Linked DNA regions of Homo sapiens: region 1 is linked to region 2. The links come from fine-mapping of genetic effects on gene expression. A gene starts in region 2. The other region holds a variant in brackets. All regions are shown on one strand. Distances are from middle to middle.

What was found.
Region 1: its variant is fine-mapped to the expression of NUBP1 in whole blood (TOPMed, PIP 0.99).

Annotation. Positions count from the first base shown.
Region 1 is chr16:10,761,592-10,772,147 of GRCh38, reverse strand. NUBP1 (NUBP iron-sulfur cluster assembly factor 1, cytosolic) reads right to left here. Exons shown (of 11, transcript NM_002484.4): 9 at 10,289-10,391; 10 at 4,116-4,199; 11 at 2,797-3,101. The coding sequence ends at 3,043. It overlaps TVP23A (trans-golgi network vesicle protein 23 homolog A), which reads left to right. Exons shown (of 8, transcript NM_001079512.4): 6 at 350-478; 7 at 1,817-1,876; 8 at 3,047-5,473. The coding sequence ends at 1,876. Among named protein-coding and RNA genes, the nearest start is that of NUBP1, 23 kb to the right of the region's middle. The variant C/T (reference allele first, on the strand shown) is at 6,305.
Region 2 is chr16:10,739,281-10,749,836 of GRCh38, reverse strand. It overlaps NUBP1 (NUBP iron-sulfur cluster assembly factor 1, cytosolic), which reads right to left and starts at 5,995. Exons shown (of 11, transcript NM_002484.4): 1 at 5,955-5,995; 2 at 5,772-5,876; 3 at 2,561-2,694. The coding sequence starts at 5,973. RefSeq lists an enhancer at 6,137-6,186.

The sequences.
Region 1 (10,556 bases), 22 kb before region 2:
GTAAATGTTGGCTGTTACTATTCTTAGGTGCAGGCTAGAGCATTTCTACGTGGCTTGAGAGGTGCATTTCTGTAAATGCTCTTAGAAAGTGACCTTTGCGTCAGATGGAGACCATCCTGGCTAACATGGTGAAACAGTGTCTCTACTAAAAATACAAAAAAATTAGCCAGGCCTGGTGGCGGACGCCTGTAGTCCCAGCTACTCGGGAGGCTGAGGCAGGAGAATGGTGTGAACCCGGGAGGCGGAACTTGCAGTGAGCTGAGATCGTGCCTCTGCACCCCAGCCTGGGCGACAGAGCGAAACTCTGTCTCAAAAAAAAGTGACCTTTGCTTTCTTTGTCTGAGTGCAGGCTCTGGTGGTTGCTGGGATCTCTCTCCAAGCTGCAAACCTGTATGGCTACATCCTTTGTAAGATGGGAGGCAACAGTGACATTGGCAAGGTCACAGCCAGTTTCCTGTCCCAGACAGTGTTCCAGACGGTGAGTAACTGAGGTCTGACTCTTGGACCACTCCTCTCCAGGTAGTCAAAGTCAAGGTGGCCTGCTGGCAACTGCGGTTTGTAATGTAACATATCCGCCAGGCTGCCAATGTTTTATTGTTTATATATTTTTTGGGAGACAGGATCTCGCTCTGTCACCCAGGCTAGAGTGCAATGGTGTGATCGCGGCCTATTGCAACCTCCATCTCTTGGGCTCAAGCGATCCTCCCACCTCAGCCTCTGGCACAGTTGGGACTACAGGTGTGTACCACCATGCCTGGCCTTTTTTTTTTGTAGAGACGAAGTTTTGCCATGTTGCCCAGGCTGCTCTAGAACTCCTGAGCTCAAGCAGCCCGCCTGCCTTGGCCTCCCAAAGTGCTGGGATTACAGCCATGAGTGAGCCACTGTGCCTGGCAGTTTTGTTTTTTAATTGTAAGATTTACATAAAATGTACCATTGTAACCATTTTAAAATGTATAGTTCTGTGGCATTAAGTATAACCACTTTATTGTGCAACCTTCACCCCACCCAGCTCCAGAACTGCTTTCATCTTGCAAAACTTAAGCTCAGTACCCACAAAACACTAACTCCCCCTCCTCCTCGCCTCCTAGCCCTAGCAACCAGCATTCTGCTTTCTGTATCTATTGGTTTGACAGCCCTAGGGACCTCCTATAAGTGCAATTATAGTTTTTGTCCTTTTGTGACTGCCATTGTTAGTTTTCAGTGATTTTTAAAAGTATAGAATTAAGGAAAGAGTCACAAACGGTTTTTCAATTTTTTTTTTTTTTTTTTTTTTTTTTTTGAGATGGGAGTCTCACTCTGCTCCCAGGCTGGAGTGCAATGGCATGTGTTGGCTCACTGCAACCTCCGGCTCCGGGTTCAAGTGATTCTCCTGCCTCAGCCTCCCAAGTAGCTGGGATTACAGGTGCATAACACCATGCCTGGCTAATTTTTGTATTTATAGTAGACGGGGTCTCTCCATGTTGACCAGGCTGGTCTCGAACTCCTTGCCTCAAGTGATCTACCAGCCTTGGCCTCCCAAAGTGCTAGGATTACAGGCGGGAGCTACCGTGCCCAGCTTGTTTTTGTTTTGTTTTTTTTTTTTAACTTAATAGATATTTCTAAAAGTGAGAGACAGAAGTCTTTGAAATTTGACCAGGTTCATCCTGAAATGGGTAGAACCGTCCTAAATTTGAACAGCACTGCTTTATGCCAAGACATCAAGCAACCAATTCCGCAGGTTTTCTGTACTTTGTGGGTTTTCTCTGGCCTTCCATCAGCAGGATCGCCCCACTCGCGTGTAAGGACAGAAAACCATGGTTGACTTTTCCCCTTGCAGGCCTGCCCAGGTGACTTTCAGAAGCCTGGCCTCGAGGGGCTGGAGATTCACCAGCATTAGGTGAGAAATGGATCATGGCACCCGTGTGGAGGAACTGGGGAATTCTGAAAAATGCAGCTCTTGGGGCACAGGGGCCCGGGGTCTGGGTGGGCTTCCCCTGTTCCCTGGGGTGGCCAGGCATGTGACCAGGCAGGAAGCAGACTGGGCAATGGGCCTGCCCTGGGCTTTGCAGCCTCATTGCTCTTGGCGTGAGGAGCTGGGGGTCGGGGGGCGAGGTCACACCTTCCTCACACTGAACATGTGCAAATCTGATCATATGTATGGTCCTAGGGAAGGGCGGGGAGGGAAGAGACAAGGGAGGGAAAGAACAAGGGGATTTGTTCTTGTTTCCCACCCACCCACTTTTATGCCCCAGAGTGGAGGGAAAACAGGAATTTACTCTTCTCCCACGTGGTCTCAGATCCTGTGTGTCTCAAACAGAGCAAGCACCTCATGGCAAAGAGGATGATCGTAGAGTTTACATCTGTCCCTCTTTTTTATATAATTAAAAAACCTGAAAGTTGGTTTGCATGACACTGGACATTACTGGATATACTGTGCACATATTACTACACAGGGAATTTACACAGACCCCACATTCTGTCTTACTGGGTGATTCAAGGACTCTTCAAGGGCTTTTTGATTTGACCCAGCTGTGTCATATGCAGTGATTTTAGAACGAAGCCCAGCCTGAGCTCTGTTGCTTTTAGATTTTTCCTCAATCTGAAGAAAAGCGTTTGGACTGTGGTGTTTGAAAACAAGCCTGTGTGTTCTGCAGTGAAGCCGCACACTCACCCCTTTGGTTCTTTTCTAGGCTTTCTTATCTTCACAGGCAGAAATGGCTTAAACGGGAGTTTCTACAATCGACTAAGCTTCCGACACAGCAGAATCCCACGATCCCACAACCCATTTGTTTTTTACGTGAAACAGGCCTCGGGGGAGAGATTTGAGGGGGTTTTATTCTTAAAACGGCACATTTGTAGAGAATGCCCTTTATATATGTTCTAAAGAAAAGTGTACAAATACTCAATGATTAAAGTGTCTCTGAGAAAGTGGCTTCGGACCACACCAGCATCTGGTCCTTTTGCTGTGACCCACCCCATCCCGGAGCTGGTCGGGTCTGGCTGGATGTGCTGCCCAGTGAGTGCCTCGCTCGGTAACTGCTTGGTCCTGAACATTCTCTCGTTTCAGGAACTGATGAGGTTCTCTTCTTTTGACTGATGGAGATTACAAAACTCTTGGATTCCTGGAAAACAAGACGACAGGCATAGAGTGCTAATGGCTTGTCTACCCCTTGACAGCCCTGTCCTGTGCTGGGGAGGGCTGTGTTTTGACAGGGGTGGAATCCTCTGGCTAGTTCCATAAAAAGACCTGTGTCTGTGATGCCCTGAGTCTTTGAAAGTGACCGGAATACCTCACACTACCCATCTTGCTCATAACCAGTGGCTGCGGCCTTCCTCGGACCATCTATAGATGGAGGATTCTGGGAATGCTGTTTCCTTACCCTTGACATCATTCTTCTAGGCAAGTAAAACCCAGCCACAAACTCAGAGACCACAGCTTTAACAAACACTGACACCTCTGCCCTAACTCTGGGGCCTCTGATGGCTGCCACTGGCTGAATGTGGCCTGCACGTGGGTTTGGTCTGGCTCAACAAAGTTTTTATTTTTATTTTTTATTTTTTTGAGACACGGTCTCACGCTGTTGCCCAGGCTGGAGTGCAGTGGCGCGATCTCGCCTTACTGCAGCCTCCGCCTCCCAGGTTCAAGCGATTCTCCTGCCTCAGCCTCCTGAGTAGCTGGGACTACAGGCATGCGCCACCACACCCGGCTAATTTTCATATTTTTAGTAGAGACAGTGTTTCTCCATGTTAGCCAGGCTGGTCTTGAACTCCTGACCAGCCTCAAGTGATCTGCCTGCCTCCTTCACCCAAAGTGCTGGGATTCCAGGTGTGAGCCACTGCACCTGGCCTTTTTTTTTTTTATCAGTTACTTTTAAAAATGAATTACTTTATCCCTTTATTGGGATGTATTTCCTAAGCCATAAATTTCACCCTCACCATGTTTTTTAAACTATGAATTAATTCACAATACTCACACATTGAGAGATTTCTCATGGACTCCTGGCTTCCTCGGCTATGGGGGCCACTCTGTGGTCATCACAGACCCCACCACCCACCTGTCCTTCCACACCCCTGGCTCCTTTATGTTGCTTCCTGCCCCACAGGCATCTGCATTTAGTACTCATGGAAATACTTACTCTGAATTATACTTCTGTAGGCTAACGTGGCTGGGGAATCTGGGGCGTCAATGAAAAAAGACTGGCCTTTGTCACAATTCTTACCTTAAAAAAGAAACAAACGGAAGACAATTCAGTCCAAGAGGAAAACAGAATGGCCACAAGATCTTGGGGCTCTTTCCGTGCTGGTGACAATGGGAAGATCTTGAGCCCGCTTCACTCGTAATGAAGAACAAAGTAGAAAAGACCAGTGGGGTCTCAGGGACCTTCCTTCCAGCAGGGTCCCCAGCCAGCATTTCAGCGTGGCTAAATAATCAGGTGGTGTACAGAAAATGCAGGTTCCAGGGCCCTACAGAGAACTGATTCAGCAGCTTCCACATGGGCCCAGGAGTCTGCATTTTAAGAGATTAGCTTTTGAGTGAAAGGATCATGAATGCACATGGTTAAAAAAAGTACAGAATGCAAAAGGATATGGCATAAAAGGCCAAGTCCGAAAAGGGCTACTAGTGTTCTAGGTGTCTTTCCAGAAAGATTATGCGCATATAAATGTGCACACTTGCATGTGTGCGCACACACATACACACACTCTCATATACCTAAAATACGAATGGGAGCACATGACACACACATTCTGCCTGCTGCTTTGTCTGTGTATAATTTTATCTTCCAGGTCATCTGTGCTGGTGTCTATCAGTCTGCTAGTCTTTCCCCGCCATGTGGCCATTGTTCCAGTCCCCTCCTATGCACACCCAGGTTTCTCTAGGACCATGTTATCCCAGAGCCAGGTGGACAGGACACAAGGGGCTAGGGGTCAATGGGGGTGTTCTCGCCTCCAGTCTGCCCTGCCAGCCCCCAGTCGTGGGTGGACCTGCCATCAGCTTGCTCTGCCCACTCCCCAGGCCTGAGCTGCTGGCGAAACAGGCAAGTGACTGCACTGCCCATGGCCGGTCACCAGCCTCAGGTGAACCCCAGGAGGGGTTCCTACCTAGCACTCATCATTTCCTCAACTTCACTACTGTGTCGCCCTGTGGGACAGGGAAGTCCAAGTCGGGGAAGAAGCCTGTGGGGAGGGGTTGGTGGGAGATGGGGAGCCCATATGGCCCAGTGAGTCAGGAAAATAGGGTCCAGAGGCAGGGAACATAAGGCCAATTCGCACTTGAGCCATAACAGGAAATGTCCTCTCCATAGGACGTATGCCGTAAATGACTTTGTAACTTTACTTCATCCTTTTCGTTTATATAGGGCGTACCTCAAGTAGAGGGTATTTAAACACAAAAACTCTGTAATGGGGCCTTTGAGCCCCTATTCTCAGGCCCGTTCTCCTCCCACACCGTGGAGTTGACTTTCATTTTCAATAAATCCCTTCCTTCCTTCCTTTCTTTGTGCGTTTTGTCCAATTTTTTGTTCCAGACACCAAGAACCTGGACATCCTCCGCCGTTAACGCTGGGCCCATGAGACCATGTGGAACTCGCTAGGGAGGCCCCTGAGTGCACGTTCGCTGGGCCAGACCTGGGAGGTTGGGGATCCCAGAATAGTCATGCTGGGGCTACTTTCTGTCCCTGACTTTCACCCAGGTCTCCCTTCCCCAGAGGGCTCCCCAGCCCCCAACACACATATATGCTCTAGTGTTTTCCCTTCCTAACTGCATTTCCCCCTGGGCTCCCACCTCTCCAAGAACGGGCAGCATTATCAGAACAGCTGGTGTGAGCACAGCCCTGTTCCAAGAGATCCCAGGCATCCTCTCACCCCACCCTGGCAGATCCCTCTCACTAGGCACCACTGTCACCTGCATTTTACACACGGGGCCATCGAGGCTGAGAGCGGAAATGACTAGCCCAAGTCCCACAGCTAGTGGTGGCGGAGCAGGGCTCTGAGGCCAGCCCTTCCTGTGATCCTCAGCACACCGGGACCAGGACCCATAGCACCAGAGCGCTGGCATCTGTAACTCTTTGCCACCATGTCCCCAGAGGAGACTGAAGTGCTGTCCTCATGCCTTCCTGTCTGTTCCTAGGAAGGTGGGTTTTCCCCCACTCTGTCCCCAGTGACCTTGCCAGATGCGTGTCTGTCACTTGGCCCTCATGCTCCACCCTCTTGGGTGGGTGACAGTGTTAACCACCCCTTCCTTTCTGGCACTCCCTGGCCTTGCTATCTGTGGCTTCCCCTCAAGGTGAGCTTCTGCAATGTGCCATTTGACACACAGGACCATGCC[C/T]ACTAGAAGGCACTTAATGTTCTCAGCTCAGAATGAGCCTCGCAGCTGTCACTGGTGGCTCCTCTGCTTTGAAATTAGCTCTTGTGAACCACCTGGAACTTTGTTTCTTTGTGAAAAGTGGCCCTGAAAGGAAAGACCAGGGCCAATGCCAGGGCTTGGTGTGAGGGAGGTGGGAAGATGGAGGTTGCTGGCTCTTTGGAAGAAAAGCCGTATCAGGATCTAATAGCCCCAAGGTCACTTCCTGATCTGTCAGACAATGGCAAGGGCAGGCCTGTGGCTGGGCCCGTGGACATATTTGGGTGGGTCAGCAAGCATGCCATTTTTAAATTTTTTTTTGAGACAGGTTCTTGCTCTGTCGCCCAGGCTGGAGTGCAGTGGTGTGATCATGGCTCACTGCAACCTCAACCTCCCTGGGCTCAAGTGATCCTGCTAACTCAGCCTCCTGAGTAGCTGGGACCACAGGCACATGCCACCACACTGGGTGAATTTTTTCCTTTTTTTTTTTTTTTTTTTTTTAAGAGATGAGGTATCTTCCTGTGTTACCCAGGCTAGAGCATGGTTGTGTGTGTGTGTGTGTGTGTATTTAATGGAGTTAGTTGCTATCATTTAGTATCAGGAGACTTTGGGTAAGGATATAGATTTCTAGCTCTTCATTAAACCTTGGAAAATGTGGCAATTGTGATGGCCATAAGGACACACCTCTTGGATCTCTGGCAGCAGCTGCCATGCTCCAAAATCCACCACCACGTTTGTGTTGAGGCAATGCCACTCCCAGGCTGCTCCTAGCTAGTGACTGAGACGAGCATGGCACTCGGGCAGGCACGCTTCTGGGAGATGCAGCCCCTCTGATGGGTAAGTGGGCTCAGGAATGCCCTGGTGGCTGTGCCCAGCTTTCCTCGACAGCAGCCAAGACACTCCAGCAGACAGATGCTCCAACAGACTGACATACTCCAGCAGACTGAGATGCTCCAACAGACTGACATACTCCAGCAGACAGATGCTCCAACAGACTGACATACTCCAGCAGACTGAGATGCTCCAACAGACTGACATACTCCAGCAGACTGAGATGCTCCAACAGACTGACATACTCCAGCAGACTGAGATGCTCCAACAGACTGACATACTCCAGCAGACTGAGATGCTCCAATAGACCTACTCCAGCAGACTGAGATGCTCCAATAGACTGACATACTCCAGCAGACTGAGATGCTCCAATAGACTGACATACTCCAGCAGACTGAGATGCTCCAATAGACTGACATACTCCAGCAGACTGAGATGCTCCAATAGACAAATACTCCAGCAGAATGAGATGCTCCAATAGACAAATACTCCAGCAGACTGAGATGCTCCAATAGACTGACATACTCCAGCAGACTGAGATGCTCCAACACACTGGCATACTCCAGCAGACTGAGATTCTCCAATAGACAAATACTCCAGCAGACTGAGATGCTCCAACAGACTGGCATACTCCAGCAGACTGAGATGCTCCAATAGACTGCCACACTCCAGCAGACTGAGATGCTCCAATAGACAAATACTCCAGCAGACTGAGATGCCAAAAAGCAAAGTACACTGAGGTGCTCCAGCAGGCTAAGATGCTCCCATGGGCTGAGATGCTCCAGTGGGCTGAGACGCTCCTTCGGGCTGGGATGCTCCCGTGGGCTGAGATACTCCTGTGGGCTGAGATGCTCCTTTGAGTTGGGATGCTCCCGTGGGCTGAGATACTCCTGTGGGCTGAGATACTCCCTTGGGCTGGGATGCTCCAGTGGGCTGAGATGCTCCTTTGGGCTGGGATGCTCCCATGGGCTGAGGTACTCCTGTGGGCTGAGATGCTCCTTTGAGTTGGGATGCTCCCGTGGCCTGAGATACTCCTGTGGGCTGAGATACTCCCTTGGGCTGGGATGCTCCCATGGGCTGAGATGCTCTTGAGGGCTGGGATGCTCCCTTGGGCTGAGATGCTTCCAGGGGCTGAGATACTCCTATGGGCCGTGATGCTCTTTCGGGCTGATATGTTCCTTCCCCCACTCCTTCATCGTGGGCTAACGCTCTCCCTTGTCATTTTCTCCCACAGATGTTTCCCCTGACAAACGTCCTGCCCACCAATCCCATCTCGGCAGAGCTGAACTGTGGCAGAGGTGCAGGCTGGCAGGAATGGATGTGCCCTGGGCTGCTGCAAGCTCCTGTCCCCAATCACATCCATTCATGCAGCCCAACTGCCTCCAGGGGCCTCAGAGGGCAGCTCTCATCACCACTTCCGGCCACTGCAAAAGCTGCCTGGTGAGTGTTTTATGATGCTGGGGAAGGTTGAGAAAGCAGCTGTACTTTTCTGCATGTTGTTGGGGAAATCACATGCCAGAGAAGTATTGTGGGATGTGGGAATAAGGGAAAAAGGATTTGGGGACACAGCCTCCTGGGCACATGGGGTCTCTGGCGTTCTCCCGGGCTGTTCCCATCTTCAGAGTGGCCCTCGCACCCTACCCCCCTACCACTTCCTCGAGGCAGCCATCCCCCAACACTGTCCTCCTGGCTCCCGCTTTCTGCACGGCCCCTTGGCAATCCTGTCCATGTCCTGTGGCTTCAAAACTCAACTGCACGGACATGAACCACCTTCTCCTGACGGACCCCAGAACCTGCTGACAACCTGAGCCCCCGAGCCCCTTAGCCGCAGCACCCCAGAGGGCCCGGCCTCCCTCTACCACCCCTGCTTCACTGTCTCTGAGGGACGGACCCTCCTCCAGGTGACTTGTACTGGCAGCAGGGACAACCTTGACCCTCAGATGCCGTCACTTTCTCTCTTGTGTGTGTCCCTTCCTTTCTACACCAACGCCAGAACCCAGGGCCTCATCCTGAACCCCTATCCCAGGGCAGCCACTCCTGAGCCTCCTGTTCCCAGGCACATGACACTGACAGTCGTTTCCCACAGGCTCCCATTCTCCCCATGCAGCCCTTCCCCAAGGCTCCCCACGTGGCCTCCGCCCTCCCCGCCTCCAGGCTCTCCACGGGCCCCGCCCTCTCCCCAAGCACGCGGCCCCCACCCTCTCCTGGCCAGGCCATACTTCACCCGCCCGGCCCCTCTCTCCTGTCCCGGCACAGACACCTCACACTGGCCTTGGTTCCCTGACAAATGGAGTGGAAGTTCCGAGGCATGGGTGCAGCCGGCACTCCTGGATCCCGGCCTCCCCTCCAGCCTTCTCTCTCTGTTCTCCCCTCAGACCTAAAGGCGAGTGCTGGACGCCCCGCAGGAGCCCCACTAAAGGGCCCCAGTAACGGAGGCCCGCCCGGCTCCGCGGTCCTGGGGGACAGCAGCCTCCTGGGGGAGCAGCTTCGAGTGTAGGCCCTGCCCAGCGCCCCGCGGCGAGTGGGCGCCCGGCGGGCGTGTGGGTGGAGACGTGAAACCCCGTCCCTCCTTCAGCCTCAGGGCCACTCAGGGAGTGGGCATCTCTTGGGATCCTGGGAGACCCACGTACTTAAGAAGAGCATTTTTTGGGAACTTGGCCCCTGCTCGCAGGCCAGTGATCCGCGTTCCGGTCTGTCCCGGTGCTGGAGACAAAGGGGCCTCATCTGTGCCGTGCTGGCTTCTCCGGGCACAGGAGGCCCGGCCCCTTCCTAAGGGATTTTCACCTCAGGCCGCCTTCCTCTGTAACCTGGACGCCATGTGCATCCCCTGGAGCCGCCCCTCTATCGGGTGCCCTCCTCAGTCCCCTGCCACCACCACCCTCACCAACCTCTACCCCATTCTTCCAGGCCTCACCCCTCTGCCTGAGGCCTGCTTGCTCCCGCTACCTGCCCGCAGGGGTCTCGGCCTCTCTCCCGGTGGCCTCTTGGGGTGCCAGCTGGAGGGTGGGTCTGGCTCCAGCGCCCCATTGACCCTCCTCCTTCCATTGCCCCTCTCTGTAGCCGCCCCCTGTTGTGCCCGACCCGTGCCTGTGGGGCTGACCGAGGAGTGAGGTGCCGCCCCACACTGGGGTCACCCACCTATGAGCGGATCCAGGGGCACTCTGCCGAGGAGAGGGACCTCCAAGTCCTGGCACATGAGCTCCGCGCCCCCGGTTGTGGGAGGGAATATCTGAGATTCTTTCTGCAAGGCAAATTCAAAGGGGAGGAAACATAATTTTTTTGCAGAATCACAAGGATGGACCACATTTTAAAGAAACTTAAAAAAAAAAAAAAGGCTTAGTTTGAATGTGGAACCCTTAACACCTAAAGAACTTTCCTTTAGTCAGCAGAAAGGGATTTTAATTGT
Region 2 (10,556 bases):
TCTTGATCCAAGGCCCTTTGTGCCAATGAGATGACAGGCGCCTGCCTGCCTCAAGCGCTAACATGGAATGGTCTTGCACAGAGTTAGAGCCAAGCTTCCACCAGATGGCAGGCAGAAAAAGGTCAGGGCATGTCCCACCACCCTGCTGGATTTAGGGCAGGGAGAAATCTGTGCTGCTTGACTTTAATCAAGACATATTCAGCATTTTCCATGTGTTGACACTTTGCAGATAGTGATGTCACTGTCATGAGTAGGTCTGCCTGGGGAAAACACACTTTCCTAAATGCTGACTTCTTTTTTTTTTAAACCACCACTGCATAAAAAAATACAGCTGATCTAGCCATATTTCCACACTGAATGGTGTGCTTTCCTTCTGTATACTGCAAAGTCTAGACAGGCATGCAGCAAAGACTTCAGAACGTAATTACATGAAAGTGAAGGATGTAAACAGTTGTCTACTCACAAGTGGTTACTTGCAAGTGGTGAGATGAAAGCCCATCTCCAGTGAGCTGTTTAGGAATATTCCTGACAGCTTCGAAAAGCAAAGATTCTTCTAAACGATACAGACAATCTGAGAAAGCAGATTTCTTGGCCAGCCCACTAGGCCAGTACAGATTTGACCCTCAAATGGCAAGAGATCGCTGACTCACAGAATGACGAATCAACGTGTGTGTGTGTGTGTGTGTGTGTGTGTGTGTGTGTGTGTGTGTATGTGTCTGTGTATCTATCTATATCCTTTTTTTTTTTTAAATGGAGTCTTGTCTGTCACCCAGGCTGGAGTGCAGTAGGGCAATCTTGGCCCACCGCGACCTCCGCCTCCTGGGTTCAAACGATTCTCATGCCTCGGCCTCCCGAGTAGCTAAGACTACAGGCACGTACCACCATGCCCAGCTAATTTTTGTATTTTTTAGTGGAGACAGGGTTTCACCATGTTGGCCAGGCTGGTCTCAAACTCCTGACCTCAAGTGATCCGCCTGCCTCAGCCTCCCAAAGTGCTGTGATTACAGTGTAAGCCACCATGCCCTGCCCAACAAGTGTATTTTGAATCTGCCCAGTACTATACCTTGGGTAGGCTACAAACTCATCTCTAAGGCAGATGTAATCATCATCCCTTCATATCCAGAGAGTGAAATAAAGTAATAAAAATGGTGGCCATCACAGACCTTTACTGAGCATTGACTATTCGTCGGGCCCCGTGCTAAGTGCTTTACTGTGCCATCTCACTCAGTCCTTGGAGTCCCATTTTATAGATGAGAAAACGGAGGCAGAGTAAGCCTGGTAACTTGCCCAAGGTCACAGCAGTGGTGTAGATGGAGCTGGGACCTGAGTTTGGGCTGTCTGACTCCAGAGTGTGTGCTCTTAGCGACCCACCAACCCCTTTTATTAAAGTTGAGATCCAGAGGGCAGCAGTGGGTAATCTGAGTTTTCATGCTCGTCTGTATGCATGGGTGGAAATGAATAAACTCGTGTAAGGGCCAGCAAAAATTTTCCACAAGGGCCAACAGCAAATATATTATTAGGCTTTGTGGGCAAAATCAAGGATCATATGTAGGTACTTAGGTACTAATTTAAAAATTGCAATTTTAGGCCAGGCACGGTGGCTCATGCCTATAATCTCAGCACTTTGGGAGGCCGAGGCAGGGGGACGCCTTGAGTTCAGAAGTTCAAGACTAGCCTGGGCAACATGGCAAAACCTCATCTCTACAAAAAACCCAAAAATTAGCCGGGCATGGTGGCAAGCACCTGTAGTCCCAGGTACTTGAGAGGCTGAGGTGGGAGGATAGCTTGATGAGCCCAGGAAGTAGAGGTTGCAATGAGTCCTGATCATAGCAATGCACTTCAGCCTGGGTGACAGAGTGAGATCCTGTCTCAAACAAACAAAAAACATTTCAAAAATGTGAACATTCTTAGTTCAAAGGCCATAAGGCAGGAGATGGGCTGGATTTGGCCCACTGGCTATAGTTTGCAGGTCCCTGGCTTAGAGAAAAGCTAAAAGGGGTTAATAAAGAGGAAAAAGAAGCGTGAACGTAATGTAATAAACTATCCACATGCAAGGACAGATGTACATCTGCTAGCCATTTTCTTGGCTAGGGAATCCAGTGAAATGCTTCATTTGACTACTGGGCATTTCTTTGCTCTCTGCCGGATTGAGATTCCAAAGAGGCCAATTCAACTTAGTATAAGGAATCATTTTTTTTTCTTCTTGGACAGTCTCATTCTGCCACCCAGGCTGGAGTACACTGGTACAATCTTGACTCACTGCAACCTCTGCCTCCTGGGCTCAAGCGATTCTCATGGCTCATCCTCGCGAAAAGCTGGGATTACAAGCCTGCGCTACCACGCCCAGCTAATATTTTGTATTTTTAGTAGAGACAAGGTTTTGCCATGTTGGCCAGGCTGATCTCAAACTCCTGGCCTCAAGTGATCTGCCCGCCTTGGCCTCCCAAAGTGCTGGGATTACAGGCATGAACCACTGCGCCTGGCCTAGGAATCAGTTATTTAGTAGCCATCACGACCCTCAGACAAAATGAGCATCTCCCAGTGGTTCCTGAGGTCTCACCTGTGTGTTTTCATCCTCTGCTAGGCCATGGGCAAGGTGGGCGCTGAATGTGCTTTTCCCAACACCGCCTTTCCCAGACAATACCAAGATTTTGTGTTTTACAGTCTTCATTTTCTCTTTGATTTCCTCTATAGCTGCAAAGAAAACCAAAGTTCAGGGGATGAGGTCCCACACCAAACCTCGAATGTCACGCTTCCAGTCAACTAGAAAGAGCTAAGTCCTAGTCCTAGTACTAGTCCTGGGGCTGTTTAAAACGATCCTCTGAAATACCTCTCAGACAATGGTAGAAATAAGTGCTAGGAAGAAAATAAGGCTATTATCACACTTGAAGGGGTCTCATTTATTGGTTTACACGTTTGTCTCCCCCAACTAGAACATAGTCTCCACAAAGGTAGGAACTGTCTGAAGCTTTCAGTGCTGTATTCCCAGCTCCAGAAGAGAACTTTGCAAACAGCAATGGTCACCAACTTGGGGACAAAATCCCCCAGAGACATTTGGTAATGTCTGGAGACACTGTTCTTTCTTTCTTTTTTTTTTGAGACAGAGTGTTGCTCTGTCGCCCAGGATGGAGTGCAGTGGCGTGATCTCGGCTCACTGCAACACTGCCTCCTGGGTTCAAGCGATTCTCCTGCCTTAGCCTCCCAAGTAGCTGGGATTACAGGTGCCTGCCACCATGCCTGGCTAATTTTTGTATTTTTAATAGAGACGGTGTTTCTCTATGTTGGCCAGGCTAGTCTCGAACTTCCAACCTCAAGTGATCCACCCACCTTGGCCTCCCAAAGTGTTGGAATTACAGGTGTGAGCCACCATGCTCAGCCTGGAGACACTTTTCATTGTCACAGGAGAGGTACTGCTGGCATTTAATGGGTACAGCCCAGATTGTGCTAAATGTCCTACAATGCACAGGACAGCCCCCCACAACAAAGAGTGATCCTGCCCCAAATGTCAGCAGTGCTGAGGTTGAGAAACTCTGATAGACAGCAGGCACATACTAAGTATCTGCCAATGAAACTATCTTATTTCAAATCCTTAAAACAATACACGAGGTATAAAGGAAATTAAAAAGTCTCATGACTGGCCAAACTCAAGTGAAAGTTAAGCCTGGAAACCTCCCAACACTGCTGTCCTCCTCCCCATCAACAGACAGCTGTTACTTCCCAACCTTGTGTCAAAGCATTCTACATTAACCAGACACCTGCAAAAGGCCAAAGGCCCCATGCAATCCATTGTGGGATGACTGCCCTCACAAGTTGCTCCTAAGGAACTCCTTTGCTGGCCCCTAAATCTTTGAAGATGAGTATCCTCCCATAAACAAGGACATGCCAACTGTAACTTTAGGACTGTAACCTCAGTCTAACTCCTTCCCTATTACTGATGTCTGTTAAACGCCACACTGACCATGTCCATTACAAGCTTATCCTCCCACATGCCAAACAAAGATGGGATGAGATAGTCCTTCCTCTCCTACCCTGAGACGTCTGCCTAATTAATTCTTCCTTTATTCCCTCTTTTGAATGTTTACTTTATTTTCTGAATAGTGTAGATATACTGGGCACGAATTAAAACCTCACAAGAATGTAACTACCTGCCACGAGGCCTACTGCACTTTTTCCTGCATGCTTTTTCCCCTTTTAATGAAATATATAAACACCAGCCTTCTGGAACCACTCCATCGAGCACAGGCCACAGATGTTTCTGTCACTTGTATTTTCCAGGGCACGCCCTCAAGCTCTGGCCCAATAAACCTCCACTGAGGCTCAGTTCAGTCTCTCCATTGCATTGACAGAGATAACTATTTTTCTCTTCATTTTTTTTTTTCTTTGAGACAGGGTCTCACTCTGTCACCCAGGCTGGAGTGCAGTGGCACGATCTCAGCTCACTGCAACCTCCACCTCCCGGGTTCAAGTGATCCTCCCACCTCAGCCTCGAGGGCGGGCATGCACCACCATGCTGGCTAATTTTTGTATTTTTAGTAGAGACAGGTTTCACCATGTTGGCCAGGCTGGTCTCGAACTCCTGACCTCAAGTGATCCATCCACCCGCCTCGGCCTCCCAAAGTGCTGGGATTACAGGCGTGAGCCACTGCACCCGGCCTGTCTCCATTTTTGATGAGGAACCAGAAGCTCAGAGAGGTTAGGACTATTGCTGAAGGTCACACCGCATGGATCCAAGAATCAAATCCAAGTCTCTCTCTGAACTCCTTCAAGATTCTCCCCCTTGGCCAGGTGCAGTGGCTCATGCCTGTAATCCCAGCACTTTGGGAGGCCCAGGCAGATGCATCACTTGAGGTCAGGAGTTCGAGACCAACCTGGTCAACATGGTGAAACTCTGGTTCTACTAAAAATATAAAAATTAGCCAGCCGTGGTGGCAGGCGCCTGTAGTCCCAGGTACTCGGGAGACTGAGGCACGAGAATCGCTTGAACCTGAGAGGTGAAAGTTGCAGTGAGCCGAGATCACACCACTGCACTCTGGTCTGGGCTACACAGCAAGACTCTGTCTAAAAAAAAAGGGGGAAAAAAAAGAAAAAAAAATATTGTCCTCCTGCCTCCTGCTTTTTAAGGTCCTTCTGAGCAGGCTCCCTGGGTCCTCTCATCCTGGAATCTGTGCTTCACAGCACTTAAAGCTGCGGTGGTTTAGTTGCTAGCTCACGTGTTTGTTTCCCCAGTAAAGCTAAACTCCACTAGAGCAGTGACCACGCCTGATCCCCAGCTGTGTCCCCAGGACAGCACCAAACCTACGAGGCGATCAACACATTTCTGCTGAATGAGTGGGAGAATCACTCCTCAAAAGGAAGAAAATTGTGTCAAGAAAGTAGCTGGCAGAGCCAGGATGTAAGTCCGAAGACTCCCCGACTTCGAAGCTTATCCCGTTTTTCTCTGCGGTCTGTTATTGTCACTCAAACCTCTGGCCCCGACCCTCTTAATTAATGTCCCTTTCGACTCCGCGCCGGTCAGTCTCCACCCTCCATCCGCGCCAGGTCCTTCGCGCTCGCCTTCTAAAGGCCTCGTTCCTGTCAGTCATTCCAAGCTCCGCCCTCACCCTGCCCACTTTCCACGCCCCGCCCCTTCTGGGCCCCACCCCTCTCCGAATACAATACCTTCTAGCCTGCCGCTGTCAGTCATTCTGCAGATCCCGCCCCCTCCCTCCCACGCCCCGCCTTTTCCGGGCCTGCGCCTCTAAGTTCCTGTTGAGGCCTTGCCCTTTTCTCACCCGTGTCCGGAGTGGCCCCCGCTCCAGAAGCGCACAGCCGCTGGTTGGGGCATCCCTGACATGAAGCCCCTCTGCCCGCCTGGGCGCTGTCGGCCCCTGGACAGTCTGCGCAGAGACAAGACCACAGTTAGAGCAGCTCCCGACACTTTCGCCCCGCGACCCACGCCCCCTCCGCGAGCTTACCGTGAGGCACCTCCTCCATTCCGTCGCCTTTGCCGCCTTCGTGGTCACCGGAACCCGCTGTCGTACATTTCCGCCTTGTGGGCACAATCTGATTCTCCGACCGCGCGAAATAAGTCTCGGAAAGGGGGCTGTGCGCACGCGCGAACCTTGGGCCGAAAGACTGGGACTCAACGTCTGTTCCTTTTCAGAGATTTCCTATCATAAATACTTCTGCAGTGCATCTCCTAAGAACAAAGCCATTCTTCATGACATCAGTGCCATTTTCATACCCAAGAGATTTAATATCGATGCAGTACTAGCCAATGCAGTATTAGCCAATAGACAGTTTATATTTCAATTTCAGTTGTTAGACCCCCTCCCCTGCTGGATTCACTCACTGCCTGGAGTTATTTCTCTTCGGTCTCCTTTAATTCAGATCAGTCCTTCTTTTTTTAGGGGGGGTCTCATCACCTTGATAATTTTGACGGGTCCAGACCAGTTGTGTAATAGAATATCCCATATTCTTGATTTGTCTAATCCTCCCCTCCCTCTTGCCTTGTAATTAGATAAAGGTTAATTTTTCTTTTTTCCTGCAGAACACACTTGGATAATGTCAGTTTGTCCCGTTTTTGGTAATGTGAAGCTTGATCGCTTGCTAAAGGTGGTGTCTGCCCCATTTCTCCATTTAATGTTTCCTTCTTCCATTTGTAATTAACAGGTACTCTCTGGGACCATCTTCTTCTCTATCAGCCTTTCACTCAGTGATTTTAGCAGCATTTATATATATATATATAAAACTATAGATTATATATATGATAAATATATATCAGTTTTATACCCTCTCTTTTTTTCTTTTTTTTCGAAGACTCACTATGGATTCCTGGATTTTTTAAAATTGTCTTTTATAATCAATTATTATTCTTTCTGGTCGATTTTTTTTCCCCCAGATGTGGCCAGTGAAGCCCCTTCAAGACAGTTCTTATGTTCTTTGGGCACTAATCCAGCTTCTTTGAGCATTTTCTTGCTTTCTGATACAAGATGTTTCAGTCATCCCTTCTCCCTGCTGCAGTCATTTCTTCAGGGAGCCTTGGTTACTTTTTAGCAGACAACAGTTCAGAAACCAAGATGTGGATGCCACAAATGCTCATTGCTACTGGAGTGTCATTGCTCACAGGTTTGGCACCTGGAATATTAATGAGTGAACAAACTTTACCTAGCCCCAGACACTAAGAATATGGAAACGTTTATTTATTTATTTATTTTTGAGGCGGATTCTCGCTCTGTCACCCAGGCTGGAGTGCAGTGGTGGGATCTCGGCTCACTGCAAGCTCCGCCTTCTGGGTTCACGTCATTCTCCTGCCTCAGCCACCCGAGTAGCTGAGACTACAGGCCACCACGCCCGGCTAATTTTTTGTATTTTTAGTAGAGACAGGGTTTCACCATGTTAGCCAGAATGGTCTCGATCTCCTGACCTCGTGATCTGCCCGCCTTGGCCTCCCAAAGTGTTGGGATTACAGGCATGAGCCACCGCACCCGGCCTCGGAAACATTTATTAAACAGCAGTGTATCAGCTGCCTGTCACTACCACTAATTATAGCCAGCATTTTGTAGAATACTTACCGTTTGGCAGCTGTCATCTTTGTGCTTTCATGTGAATTACCTAATTTATGTCCTTTCATAGTCCTACTGTCTCCATTTTTGGATAAGGAAACTGAGGCTTAAAGTAAACTACTTTCCCGAGGTCGCATGACTGGTAGCAGGGGAACCAGGGTGATAAACTTGGTCTGTCTGGCTGCAGAGCCTGCACTTAGTAACACATGGTCCCAGCCAGCACTGGGCTAGATGCCAATGATTCCAGACTAACCTGGACCCTGCCATCTGGAGCACAGTCTGGTCGGGAGAAGAGGACCAGAGTGATGGGGCATCAGCAAAGGCCTGGAGAGCAGAGAGGAAGTCACCTATCAGGTAGGGACTGTTGTCATTTCCGTTTTACAGGTGATAAGATGGCTGCAAAGATTTACTTGTCCACAGTCTGAGAGGCAGAAAGAGCAGAACTGGGTTTTTAACCAAGTCTGATACAGGGCCTTTGCTATTAATCACTATACTGTATATTAGAGGGCAGGATGCAAGTTATTCTCCTTTTTATTTTTATTTTTGTGGGATGGAATCTCACTCTGTTGCTCATGCTGGAGTGCAGTGGTGTGATCTTGGCTTACTGCAACCTCCACCTCCCGGGTTCAAGCAATTCTCCTGTGTCAGCCTCCTGAGTAGCTGGGACTACAGGTGCCCACCACCACGCCTGGCTAATTTTTTGTATTTTTGGTAGAGACGGGGTTTTACCATGTAGGCCTGGCTGGTCTCGAACTCCTGACCTCAGGTGATCCACCCGCCTCAGCCTACCAAAGTGCTAGGATTACAGGTGTGAGCCACCGCGCCTGGCCAGGGCCGCTTCTTAAGGTGAGTGCTCCCCAAGACTCTGTTCTTGGGCCACTTCCAGTCCCACTTCCCACTTCCTCCTGGGCAAGCAACTGACAGCCCTGATGCTATCCATCTTCTGTCTCCAGCTCCCACACCTCTTGCTCCGTGAGTTCGGATCTGTGGATCCTACCTTGTGCCTATTGGATTTTATTGCATGGACATCCCACAAGCGTAACAAATAAACGTCTACAACTTCTTCTCAAGGCGGTTCCTGCCTCTGGATTTGTTATACCTGGACAGGGCATGACCCCTGGGCTAAGAACTCAAGCCGTAAATCTGAGTATCAGCCTTGTTTAGTTTTCTCCATCTCCATCAGTGATCAAGTGCTGTGTGACAAGTCACCCCAATATGTAGTGGTTTAAACCCACCATGGTTTATTGCTTCCTGTGACTCTTCTGGTTTCACCTGGGCTCCCTTAATGTGGCTTCATTCAGCTGGGAGTTGGCTGGAAGGTCTCAAATGGCTTCACTCTCACACTGGCCTTGATTCCCCCCTCGTGGCCTCCCTCTCTCATTTTTCAGTGGTCTAGCCTGTGTCCCTTTAAATGGCAGCTGGGAATGACAAAGCTGGGAAGTGGCAGTCACTTTCACCATGTTCTCTCGGTCAAAGTGTCACAGACACAGACTCCTCTTGTTGATTAGTGGGGTGGCGTACCTATACAGGGATGGGGGTCAGTGTTGTCCATAGAGACGCCCACAGCACCCCCTGCATCCAATCAGACATCAGGTCAGCAGCTGCACCCCTAGGTGGTAGGCTGGTAGCACACATGACCCCACTTCTCTCCCTGTCTGGATCTGTGCCCTTGGCTGCTGAACTTTGCAGTGCCCTCCCACGTGCGGGGAGGGGGTTCCATCCTACCCCTTGACTCTGTGCTCAGGCATGTGACTTACTTTAGCAAATGTGATTCAAGAAAAAGCTTGTAATGGGGCTTTTGCCTGTTTTAATCCCTCTCCAGCTCCCCTGCCACTTAAAGGTACACAGGCTAGGAGAAGGTCTGGGCTCGCCCATGGGAGGTGAAACACCTGGAACTGAGCTGAGCCACCCCTGTGCTCTCAGTGAAGGCCTCCTAAACCAGCGGCCCAAGACACATGAGAAGAGTCCAGCCAAGAGCTGCAGATCCACCCACCCAGACCCACAGATCCACCCATCCAGACCCACAGATCCACCCACCCAGACCCACAGATCCACCCATCCAGACCCACTGATCCACCCATCCAGACCCACAGATCCACCCATCCAGACCCACCGATCCACACATCCAGACACACAGATCCACCCATCCAGACCCACCGATCCACACATCCAGACCCACAGATCCACCCATCCAGACCCACAACTGGCCATAGATGCGTGAGTCCTGAAGAACCACCTGGCCAATGCACAGGCTGGTGAACTAGCTAAATGCTGGTGGTTTGACACTGTTGAGTTTGGGGTAGCTATAGACAACTGACACTCCATGCCTTCCAGCATCCCTCCTGCCTCAGCTCAGGCCCCCTCCTCCTCCTGGTCCTGCAACAGTGTCTGTTTCAGCCAGGATAGGCTAGTCTGCGCTGCCAAAACAGACATCCCCAAACTGAAGTGGCTCAAGGCAATCAAGTTTATTTTGGCATTTGCTCCATATGTAACTTCATGGACAGAGGTTCCTGCTCCCTGTGGTTCCTCAGGGACACAGACTGAAGCTCCACCGTCTCCTGTGGCCCCTTTTGAACACAGAGGACACAAGCCAGGGGAATTGTACCCTGATTCTGAAATGCTTCCACTAGAAATGACACCTATCTGCCCACTTTTCATTGGCTACAATTAGTCACACACGTCAGGTGCAGTGGCTCACACCTGTAATCCCAGCATTTTAGGAGGCCAAGGCAGGAGGATTGCTTGAGGCCAGGAGTTGGAGAACAGCATAGTGAGACCCTGTCTCTACAAAAAATTTAAAAATTAACTGGGCAAGGTGGTGCATGCCTGTAGTCCCAGCTACTTGGGAGGCCGAGGCAGGACGATTGCTGGAGTTGGAGGCTGCAATGAGCTGTTATCACAGTACTGCCCTCCAGCCTGGGCAGCAGAGTGACACCTTGTCTAAAAAAAAAAAAAAAAAAAAAAAAAAGGCCAGGCGCGATGGCTCACGCCTGTAATCCCAGCACTTTGGGA